Linked DNA regions of Homo sapiens: region 2 is linked to region 1. Evidence: fine-mapped expression QTL. A gene starts in region 1. The other region holds a variant in brackets. All regions are shown on one strand. Distances are from middle to middle. Region 1 holds the start of TMC4 (transmembrane channel like 4). Region 2 has its middle 9.1 kb from the start of TARM1.

Region 1 (5,000 bases):
CAGGCGCCTGTAGTCCCAGCTACTCGGGAGGCTGAGGCAGGAGAATGGCGTGAACCTGGGAGGCGGAGCTTGCAGTGAGCCAAGATCGCGCCACTGCACTCTAGCCTGGGCGACAGAGCGAGACTCTGTCTCAAAAAAAAAAAAAAAAAACCACTGGGCTGAAGAATTAAGACTTGTTGGTCCTGGGAGAGGAAGGGCAGTGGAATATAAAATGTTAAATCTTTAAAGAAGAAGAGGGTCTTGATAGGACTGAGTGTGTATGGAAGGCTGCGAGCTCCTGGATCCCTGAAGGAGACAGAGGCCTGTAGCCTCCTCCGCCTTCCGGAGCTAGGGTCATGGGTCTGAGTGGGGAGGGCCTGGGGCCTGGTCTCCTGGATCTGAGGGAGGAGGGAGGTGGGGTCTGGTCTCCTGGATCTGAGGGAGGAGGGAAGTGGGGTCTGGACTCCTGGATCTGAGGGAGGAGGGAGGTGGGGTCTGGTCTCCTGGGTCTGAGGGAGGAGGGACTGGGGCCTGATCTCCTGGGTCTGAGGGAGGAAGGGGTGGGGTCTGGACTCCTGGGTCTGAGGGAGGAGGGGCTGGGCCTGCACTTCTCGGTCTGAGGGAGGAGGGGCTGGGGTCCTGGACTCCTGGATCTGGGGGCAGTGGGCACTGGGGACCTGGACTCGTAGGTCCTGACTCCCAGCCTCCTCCTCAGGAGCGCCTGGACCATGCTGCTGAGCGCCTACTGGCACGGCCTCCACCCGGGCTACTACCTGAGCTTCCTGACCATCCCGCTGTGCCTGGCTGCCGAGGGCCGGCTGGAGTCAGCCCTGCGGGGGCGGCTGAGCCCAGGGGGCCAGAAGGCCTGGGACTGGGTGCACTGGTTCCTGAAGATGCGCGCCTATGACTACATGTGCATGGGCTTCGTGCTGCTCTCCTTGGCCGACACCCTTCGGTACTGGGCCTCCATCTACTTCTGTATCCACTTCCTGGCCCTGGCAGCCCTGGGGCTGGGGCTGGCTTTAGGTGGGGGCAGCCCCAGCCGGCGGAAGGCAGCATCCCAGCCCACCAGCCTTGCCCCGGAGAAGCTCCGGGAGGAGTAAGCTGTCACGACGCTCCCTCTGCCAGCTGGTCCCGGGAATTCTGTGAACCAGGCTGCTGTCTCCTCCCCAGAAAGAGTCCTTACCTTGGAGAGGGTCCTGGAGAGAATTTCCTCTTCCCCAGCTAAATACCCTGCCTGCAACTGAAGCAGACCCGGGGGTGTCCTCCCTGCCCTCTGCCCAGAGGCCACCTCCACTCCTACAAAATCAAAGTATTGTCCAGACAAGAGTCACTGGCCCCTGCTCCAGCTTCTGGGTATCCAGAGAGCACTGCACTTCCCCAAAACGGAAGGGGCCCCTGGGCAGTGGGTTTTGGGCAAATTCCCTTTCTTTGCATCCACAATGTGGGGTCGGAGCTTGGGGGCAGGTCCTGGGAGTGGGAAGCCTCTTCCTTGTGTCTTTCGCTCCACTTTTAGCTCATCGCACCAATATTGCAGACTTGGAAGGAAGCATAAGCTTCCCATTTCACAAAGGGGAAACTGAGGTGCGGGTGCGCGGGCCTGGGGACGGCCGTCCCATGGCTTCCATCTGAGCCACCTCGGGACCCCAGCACTCCTGGCGCCCTCTTCTCATCGCTTGGCCTATGACAGGTCACCGTGTGTAAATCTTTCCCAATAAAGTGTTGCACAAAGGCATCGTGTCCGTGCAGGTATCTGGGTGATAAACGGTGGGAAGGACTTAGTCCACCAAGTCCCAGGGTGAGGTACAGCCCCCCCGCCCAGCCCAGGAACCAAACTGTGAGGCCCGGGGCACCACGGGGACTTCAGCTCCCAGGAGACCTTTCGCATCAGCGGCCCTGAGAAACCACAGGAAGTGTACCTTACTCCCTCCGGGCCACCTGCTGGCCAGGTACACACCTGCCCCTGGCCCCTCCCTTACCTGGGGCAGTGTCTGCCTGGTGGCCACTAGAGACAGCCCAGCCTGGGGCCATGGAAGAAAACCCGACCTTGGAATCAGAAGCCTGGGGCTCCTCTAGGGAGTGGCTGGCCCCCCGGGAGGCCAGAGGAGGTAGGGAATGCCAGGAGAAGCTCAGATCCATCCGACCTTCAGGCTAGGTGGGAGTCCTGCTGGAGGAGGAAAGGGGAGGCCTGGCCTCCTGAGTCTGAGGGCTAAAGAGAGAAGGTTCCACTTCCTGATATTATGGGGGAGAAGGGAACTGGAGGCTGGAACTCCAGGGTCTGAGGAGGAGGAGCCTGGAGAACCAGGCTAGTCTGGGAGGAGGGGAGGGCTAAGGGCTGGGAGTTTGGGTGTCTTGGGAATAGGAGAGGCTGGGTTCCCACACTCCTGAGCTAGAGGGAAAAGGAAGTTAAAGCCTGGACTCCACTGCCCTGGAGTAGGAGGGTTCCACGCTTGGGGATGGAGTTGAGGGCTGTGGACCCCTGGGTCCAGGGGAAGTAGAGGCTGGCACCCGGACTCCTGGGCCTGAGGGAGGAGGGGCTGGGAACCTGGTTTCCTGGTCTGAGGGAGGAGGGGCTGGGTGCCTGGATTCCTATGTCTGAGGGAGGAGGAGCCGGGGGCCTGGACTCCTGGGTCTGAGGGAGGAGGGGCCGGGGGCCTGTTCTCCTGGGTCTGAGGGAGGAGGAGCCGGGGGCCTGGACTCCTGGGTCTGAGGGAGGAGGCGCCGGGGGCCTGTTCTCCTGGGTCTGAGGGAGGAGGAGCCGGGGGCCTGGACTCCTGGGTCTGAGGGAGGAGGAGCCGGGGGCCTGGACTCCTGGGTCTGAGGGAGGAGGAGCCGGGGGCCTGGACTCCTGGGTCTGAGGGAGGAGGAGCCGGGGGCCTGGACTCCTGGGTCTGAGGGAGGAGGAGCCGGGGGCCTGGACTCCTGGGTCTGAGGGAGGAGGAGCCGGGGGCCTGGACTCCTGGGTCTGAGGGAGGAGGGGCCGGGGACCTGGTTTCCTGGTCTGAGGGAGGAGGAATTAGGGCCCAGACTCCCGGGTCTTCCCAGCCCCCTGCTCCTCCCCAGGCCCATCGCTGTCTTCTGTGCTGAACGAGCTGCCCAGTGCTGCCACCCTTCGGTACCGAGACCCTGGGGTGCTGCCTTGGGGGGCGCTGGAGGAGGAGGAGGAGGATGGAGGAAGGAGCAGAAAGGCCTTCACAGAAGTCACCCAGACAGAGCTGCAGGACCCTCACCCTTCCCGGGAACTGCCCTGGCCCATGCAGGCCAGACGGGCACACAGGTGAGGCCCCACCTCCAGCTGGGACCCGCACAGCCCGGACCGGGCCCTTCTCCCATACCCTGGACTCGGTCTCCTCCCTCTGTCCTCTGCCGCTCCTGGCTTCTGGGGCCTCTCTCTGCCCCGCTCAGAGCTGCCTCTCTTGGTTTCTTTCTTCCCCTCATCTTTGTCTCTACTTCGGACTCCAGGTGAGTGCTGCCTTTCGATGGCTCTGGGGTCTCTTCTCTCTGGGATTTGCCGTCTCCCTGGTCTCCACCAATCCTGTCTCTGCCTCAGTTTCTCTCTGTGTGTGTGTCCAAAATCTGTTAATATTTATTTCTCTCTGCTTTATACCTTCCTTCATCTTTGCCTCCTCTTCCAAGCCTCCCTCTCTTTAACTTCTTTCTTTTCCCATTCTCACTGCATAATTTGCAGGGCCTGGTGAACAATGAAAATGCAGGTGCCCTCCTTCAAAAATGATTATGGGCCCATTGCAGTGGCTCACACCTGTAATCCCAGCACTTTGGGAGGCCCAGGCGAGTGGATCACCTGTGGTCAGGAGTTCGAGACCAGCCTGGCCAACATGGCAAAACCCCAACTCTACTAAAAATACAAACATTAGCTGGGTGTGGTGGCGGGTGCCTGTAATCCCAGCTACTCGGGAGGCTGAAGCAGGAGAATCGCTTGAACCAGGGAGATAGAGGTTGCAGTGAGCCAAGATCGTGCCATTGGACTCCGGCCTGGGTGATAGAGCGGGACTCCATCTCAAATATATATGCGTATATATATGCATATGTGTGTATATATATACACATATATATGTATATATATGTGTATATATATGGAAAAAACAATAAAAAATAACAATGTATCAACACTCCCACACCGATCAGTAGTGGGATCATGCCTGTGAATATAGCCACTATACTGCGGCCTGAGTAACATAGCGAGACCCCCATCTCTATTTTTTAAAAGTAATAATCAAAGTAACAATATGACAAAAAATAATACAAGTTAAAAGAACAGCTATCTATATAACATTTACCTTGTACCGGGTGTTATAAGTAATCTAGAGGTGATTTAAAGTGCATTGGAGGGCTGGGTGTCGTGGCCCATACCTGTAGCCCCAGCGCTTTGGGAGGCTGAGGCGGGAGAATTGCTTGAGCCTGGAAGTTTGAGGCTGCATTGAGCTATGATTGCACCACCGCACTCCAGCCTGGACAACAAAACGAGACATTTGTCTGTAAAAATCAGATAAAAATTAAAATAAAATAAAATAAAACAAACACAGGAGGATGTGTGTAGCCTGTATGCAAATACTATACCGTTTTATATAAGGAATTTGGGCATCTACAGATTTCAGTATTCTTGGGGAGTCCTTGAACCAACCCCCATGGATACTGAGGGATGGCTGTATTCATAAAGTGAGAGCCCAGATAAACTCCAGCTAGGGCAAGTGACACGGCATGACAGCACCCTGTGCGTCCCTCCCCTGACACCCCCTTTTTCCTCACAAATACAAGGTAACCTCTTCTCCCTAACCTTTTTTTTTTTTTTTTTGACAGAGTCTTGCTCTGATGCCCAGGCTGGAGTGCAGTGGTGCAGTCTCAGCTCACTGCAGCCTCCGACACCTGGGCTCAAGCGATCCTCCCACTCCAGCCTCCTGCTTTTCTGTAGAGCTTTGCAAGCTGTGCTCTGCAACGTTGTGCAAATAGAATCATACAGTCTTCAGTCTTTTGTGCTGGCTTCTTCTGCCTAGCATTAGGTT
Region 2 (5,514 bases), 82 kb after region 1:
GTCTTTTTTTTTCCTTTTTCCCTCTTTTTTTATTTTATTTTATTTTATTTTATTTTTTTTGAGGTGGACTTTCGCTCTTGTTGCCCAGGCTGGAGTGCAATGGCGCCATCTCGGCTCACCACAACCTCCGCCTCCCAGGTTCAAGTGATTCTCCTGCCTCAGCCTCCCGAGTAGCTGGGATTACAGGTGTGAGCCACCACACCTGGCTAATTTTGTATTTTGAGTAGAAACAGGGTTTCTCTGTGTAGGTCAGGCTGGCCTCGAACTCCCAAACTCAGGTGATCCGCCCGCCTCAGCCTCCCAAAGTGCTGGGATTACAGGCATGAGCCACCGTGCCCGGCCCTCTTTTTTTTAAAATGTATTTCCACCCAAAGCAGAGAAAAAGAAGTCTTGGCCGAGTTTGTACTTCAACTTAACTCCATGTATTCATCCATTCAATCACTCCTTCATTCACCATTCACTCATTCATGTCTAGCATTGATTCTCATCCTTATTCATTTCTATTGAGCATCTCTTTTTCCTTTGCTTTCATTTGTACATTTGTCTATTTCATTTGTCCTTATCCATCATGCATTCATTCATATTTCCATCCATTTACCCATCCATTTCTTCATTAACCAGTTTTTAATCCACTGAACTATTTATTCATTCAATATCCATCTATCTACCTGTGCATTTATCTATCCAATAAGCTTGAGATTTTTTTTCTTTTTGAGATGGAGTCTTGCTCTGTTTCCCAGGTTGGAGTGCAGTGTTGTGATCTCAGCTCACTACAATCTCCACCTCCCGGGTTCAAACGATTCTCCTGCCTCAGCCTCCCAAGTAGCTGGGATTACAGGCACCTGCCACCATGCCCGGCTAATTTTGTGTTTTTAGTAGAGATGGGGTTTCACCATGTTGGCCAGGCTGTTCTCGAACGCTTGACCTAAAGTGATCCATCTGCCCACCTTGGTCTCCCTTTAAAGTGCTGGGATTACAAGCGTGAGCCACTGCACCCAGCTGAGATTTCTTCATAGCAGTTTACCAGTGACCAGTGTTCAATGAATGCTTATTGAGTGAGTTGTAGTCACAATGCTTATTTCATTTTCTACCACTGAACATCTTTTCATACTGGTCATTTTGCTGGGTGATCCACATAGGTTATTTCTGATCTTTATCAACAGCCCCCAAGTCACACAGAAGTGCTTAACTTGGGACTTGTCTGTGTGGTTAGACTGCTGGGTCTTTTCCCCCTGTTCCTGCCTCTTAAAGCAATGACAACACTGCCATCACCACGCCTGGCCAATTTATTATTACTATTATTATTATTATTTTTTTTTGAGATGGAGTCTCGCTCTGTTGCCAGGCTGTAGTGCAATGACGCGATCTCGGCTCACTGCAACCTCCGCCTCCTGGGTTCAAGCGATTCTCCTGCCTCGGCCTCCCGAGTAGCTGGGATTACAGGCGTGTGCCACCACCACGCCCAGCTAACTTTTGTATTTTTAGTAGAGATGGGGTTTCACCATGTTGGCCAGGATGGTCTCGATCTATTGACCTCGTGATCCACCCGCCTCGGCCTCCCAAAGTGCTGGAATTACAGGCGTGAGCCACCGCGCCCGGCTAATTGTTTACTTTTTATAGCTATGGGGTCTCACCATGTTGTCCAGGCTGGTCTTGAATGCCTGGCCTCAAGCCATCCTCCTTCCTTGGCCTCCCAAAGTGCTGGGATTCCAGGAGTGAGTCACTGCGCCAGGCCTAGGGCTTCCACTGATTTCCCCTAGTCTCATTCATCCTCGTATCACTCATGTATTCAATGTCTACCGTGCATGGCATTGTGCTAGAGTCCGGCGGTCCAGTGGGGAGCAATAGCAGACGTAAACCCTGCACTCATGGAACTCACAAAGTATTAACCAAATCACTGCATAGTGTATTGGTTACAGAGCACTTTAAGCTGTTGTAAAAAAGAATCTCCCGGCCAGGTGCAGTGGCGCACACCTGTAATCCTAGCACTTTGGGAGGCCAAGGCAGGTGGATCACCTGAGGTCAGGAGTTCGAGAGCAGCCTGATTAACATGGTGAAACCCTGTCTCTACTAAATACAAAAAATTAGCCTGGTGTGGTGGTGCATGCCTGTAATCCCAGCTACTCGGGAGGCTGAGGCAGGAGAATCACTTGAACCCGGGAGGCGGAGGTTTCACTGAGCCGAGGTCGTGCCATTGCACTCCAGCCTGGGCAACAAGAGCCAAGCTCCATCTCATAAAAAAGAGAGAGAGAGAGAAAAAAAGAATCTCCTTCACCACCGGAAAAAAACTAGATATAAATGTACCTCTCTCTCACTTAACAGTAAATCACTGGGCAATCTCAACGATTTACTTGTTAAGGTGGGATGGTTTTGCTTTTATCAACATGTAGCTTTAATTTCTGGTTCTGAGCCCCAAGAAAGTGGAGAGGACAGAGAGAAAAGGGCTCACACAATTATTATTATTTTTTTTTTCCGAGTTGGAGTCTTGCTCTGTCGCCCAGGCTGGAGTGCAGTGGCGCGATCTCGGCTCACTGCAAGCTCCGCCTCCCGGGTTCACGCCATTCTCCTGCCTCAGCCTCCCGAGTAGCTGGGACTACAGGCGTCCACCACCACACCCGGCTAATTTTTTTTGTATTTTTAGTAGAGACGGGGTTTCACCGTGTTATCCAGGATGGTCTCGATTTCCTGACCTCGTGATCCGCCTGCCTCAGCCTCCCAAAGTACTGGAATTACAGGCGTGAGCCACTGCGCCCGGCCCACACAATTATTTTTTAAGAGCAGGACCTAGAATTTGAGCATATATCTTCCTATCGCATCCCATTGGCTAGAACTTAGTCTCATGGCCAGGTCTAGCCGCAAAAGTGACTGATGGAAATATGGTCTCTAGCCTGTGCCCTTCTAAAAATGAGGGTGGGAGGGGGTGGGATAGGTGCAGTGGCTCACTCGTAATCCCAGCATTTTGGGAAGCTGAGGCAGGAGGATGGCTTGAGGCCAAGAGTTTGAGACTCCCTTCTCTATTCAAAAAAAAAAAAAA[T/AAAT]ACAGTAGGCCAGGTGCGGTGGTTCACGCCTGTAATCCCAGCACTTTGGGAGGCCAAGGCAGGCAGATCACCTGAGGTCAGGAGTTGGAGACCACCCTGGCCAATATAGTGAAACCCCGACTCTACTAAAAATACAAAGCTGTAATCCCAGCTACTCGGGAGGCTGAGGCAGGAGAATCACTTGAACCCTGGAGGCAGAGGTTGCAGTGAGCTGATACACGCCATTGCACTCCAGCCTGGGCCACAGAGCGAGACTCCGTCCCAAAAAAAAGAAAAACAACGAATAAAACAAAAAAACAAAAAACAAACAAAAAAAAGTTTAATGATTTTTCTTCTCTCTAGGAGAAAATATGGAAGTAAAACAGGACCCATCTGAAGATCGTGTGTCCTCTGCTGATTTTAAATAGCCATGGAAAGTTAATGCCACCGCAAGGGGCAGCCCCGCCCTGGCACTCTGGAAACCTGGTACTTATCCACGCAATCAGAGGCTTGAACCACAGCTAAGCTGAGTCTCGGCGGGACCTCTTCTGATCCTCCGGGCACACAAGAGGATTGGGGGCTGGGGAGGAGCTGCTTCAAGGACACCTCCGTTTTACCTCCCGTGATACCGTGATATAGTAAGAAATATGTACTTGGTCTTCAGCTTTGGTTCCAAAGACACCCTTCTCACCCCATCACTCTGGAATTTCCAAAAACCCTTGGTGAGAAGGGTGTCTTTTGTTGTTTATAAGGAGCCTCTTTTCTCTTTCTCTCTTTCTTGCTTCCTTCCTTCCTTGCCTCCCTCCCTCCCTCCTTCCTTTTCTCTTTTCTTTTTTCTTCTTTCTTTCTTTTTCTTTCTTTCTTTTTCTTTTCTTTCTTTCTTTCTTTCTCTCTTTTCTTCTTTCTTTCTCTCTTCCCTTTCTCTCCCTTTCCTTTCCTTTCTCTCCCTTCCCCTCCCCTCCCCTCTCCTCTCCTCTCTTTTCCTTTCTTTTCCTTCCTTTCCTTCTTTCCTCTAATCCCAGCACTTTGGGAGGCCAAGGCGGGCGGATCACTTGAGGTCAGGAGTTTCAGACCAGCCTGGCCAACATGGTGAAACCCCGTCTCTACTAAAAATACAAAAATTAGTCGGGCATGGTGGCAGGCACCTGTAATTCCAGCTACTCTGGAGGCTGAGGCAGGAGAATCCCTTGAACTAGGATGCAGAGGTTGCGGTGAACCGAGATCTCACCACTGCACTCCAGCCCGGGCTACAGAGCGAGACTCCGTCTCAAGGAAATATAAAAGAAAATAAAATAAATGTCTCCCAAAGAGACAAGTCAGATTAGCCTAAACCCAGGAATAACTACAGGCAGTTTGAGGGCCAAAGGCAAGGTAGGGGCTGGCCAGATCCGATCTCCTTCACTGCCATCCTTTGCTCACTCTCGTAATTTTTGCAAAGGAGGTTTCAATTGCATGGTTGTCAGCGAACATCCTATTCATCCATTTCTTGCTTTCTACCAGTAAAATTGAACTTTATAGGCCTGCTTTGTGCTTTTAAGGCTAACTAGCAAAATTCCAGAGTTTAGCCTTAAAAAATATTTATAATTGGCCGGGCACAGTGGCTTACACCTGTAATCCCAGCACTTTGGGAGGCTGAGGCGGGCGGATCACAAGGTCAGGAGATCGAGACCATCTTGGCTAACATGGTGAAACTCCATCTCTACTAAACACACACACACACAAAAAAAAAAGTAGCCGGGTGTAGTGGCACACGCCTGTAGTCCCAGCACTTTGGAAGGCTGAGGTGGGCGGATCATGAGGTCAGGAGATCAAGACCATCCTGGCTAACATGGTGAAACCCCGTCTCTACTAAAAATACAAAAAAAAAAAAAAAAAAAGTAGCTGGGCATAGTGGCACATGCCTGTAGTCCCAGCTACTTGGGAGGCTGAGGCAGGAGAATCACTTGAACCCGGGAGGCAGAGGTTGCAGTGAGCTGAGATTGTGCCATTGTACTCCATCCTGGGTGACAGAGTGAGACTCCATCTAAAAAAAAAATTCTTTATAATTGATCAAAAGAAGTTTAAGAAATGGATTAAGAAGATCTCTTCTTTGCAGCTGTAGGGGAGGAGAGGGAGCTAGAGAGAGAGAGGGCATTGAGAGAGGAGAAAAAGATATTCTGTGCCATAAAACTAATTCAAGAATGTAGTTTAGGCGAGGCATGGTGGTTCACACCTGTAATCCCAGAACTTTGGGAGGTCGAGGCAGGCGGATCACTTGGGCCCAGAAGTTCGAGACCAGCCCTGGCCAACATGGCAAAACACTGTCTCTACTAAAAGTACAAAAATTAGCCCAGCGTGGTGGCACAACCCTGTAATTCCTTGTACTTGGGAGGGCTGGGGCAAGAGAATCACTTGAACCCGAGAGGCAGAGGTTGCAGTGAGTCGAGATCACACCACTGCACTCCAACCTGGGTGACACAGTGAGACCCTGTCTTAAAAAAAAAAAAACAAAAAAAAAAACA

What was found. PIP is the estimated chance that this variant, and not a neighbour inherited with it, causes the effect. A credible set is the group of variants that fine-mapping cannot tell apart.
Region 2: its variant is the best candidate, but not a certain one, in a credible set for the expression of TMC4 in whole blood (INTERVAL, PIP 0.69).

The regions. Positions count from the first base shown.
Region 1 is chr19:54,170,126-54,175,125 of GRCh38, reverse strand. TMC4 (transmembrane channel like 4) reads left to right here and starts at 1,966. Exons shown (of 15, transcript NM_144686.4): 1 at 1,966-2,087; 2 at 3,043-3,256. The coding sequence starts at 2,009. MBOAT7 (membrane bound acylglycerophosphatidylinositol O-acyltransferase MBOAT7) reads left to right here. Exons shown (of 8, transcript NM_024298.5): 8 at 695-1,711. The coding sequence ends at 1,082. RefSeq lists enhancers at 211-1,026, 1,027-1,843.
Region 2 is chr19:54,087,738-54,093,251 of GRCh38, reverse strand. No RefSeq gene overlaps it. Among named protein-coding and RNA genes, the nearest start is that of TARM1, 9.1 kb to the right of the region's middle. The variant T/AAAT (reference allele first, on the strand shown) is at 3,035.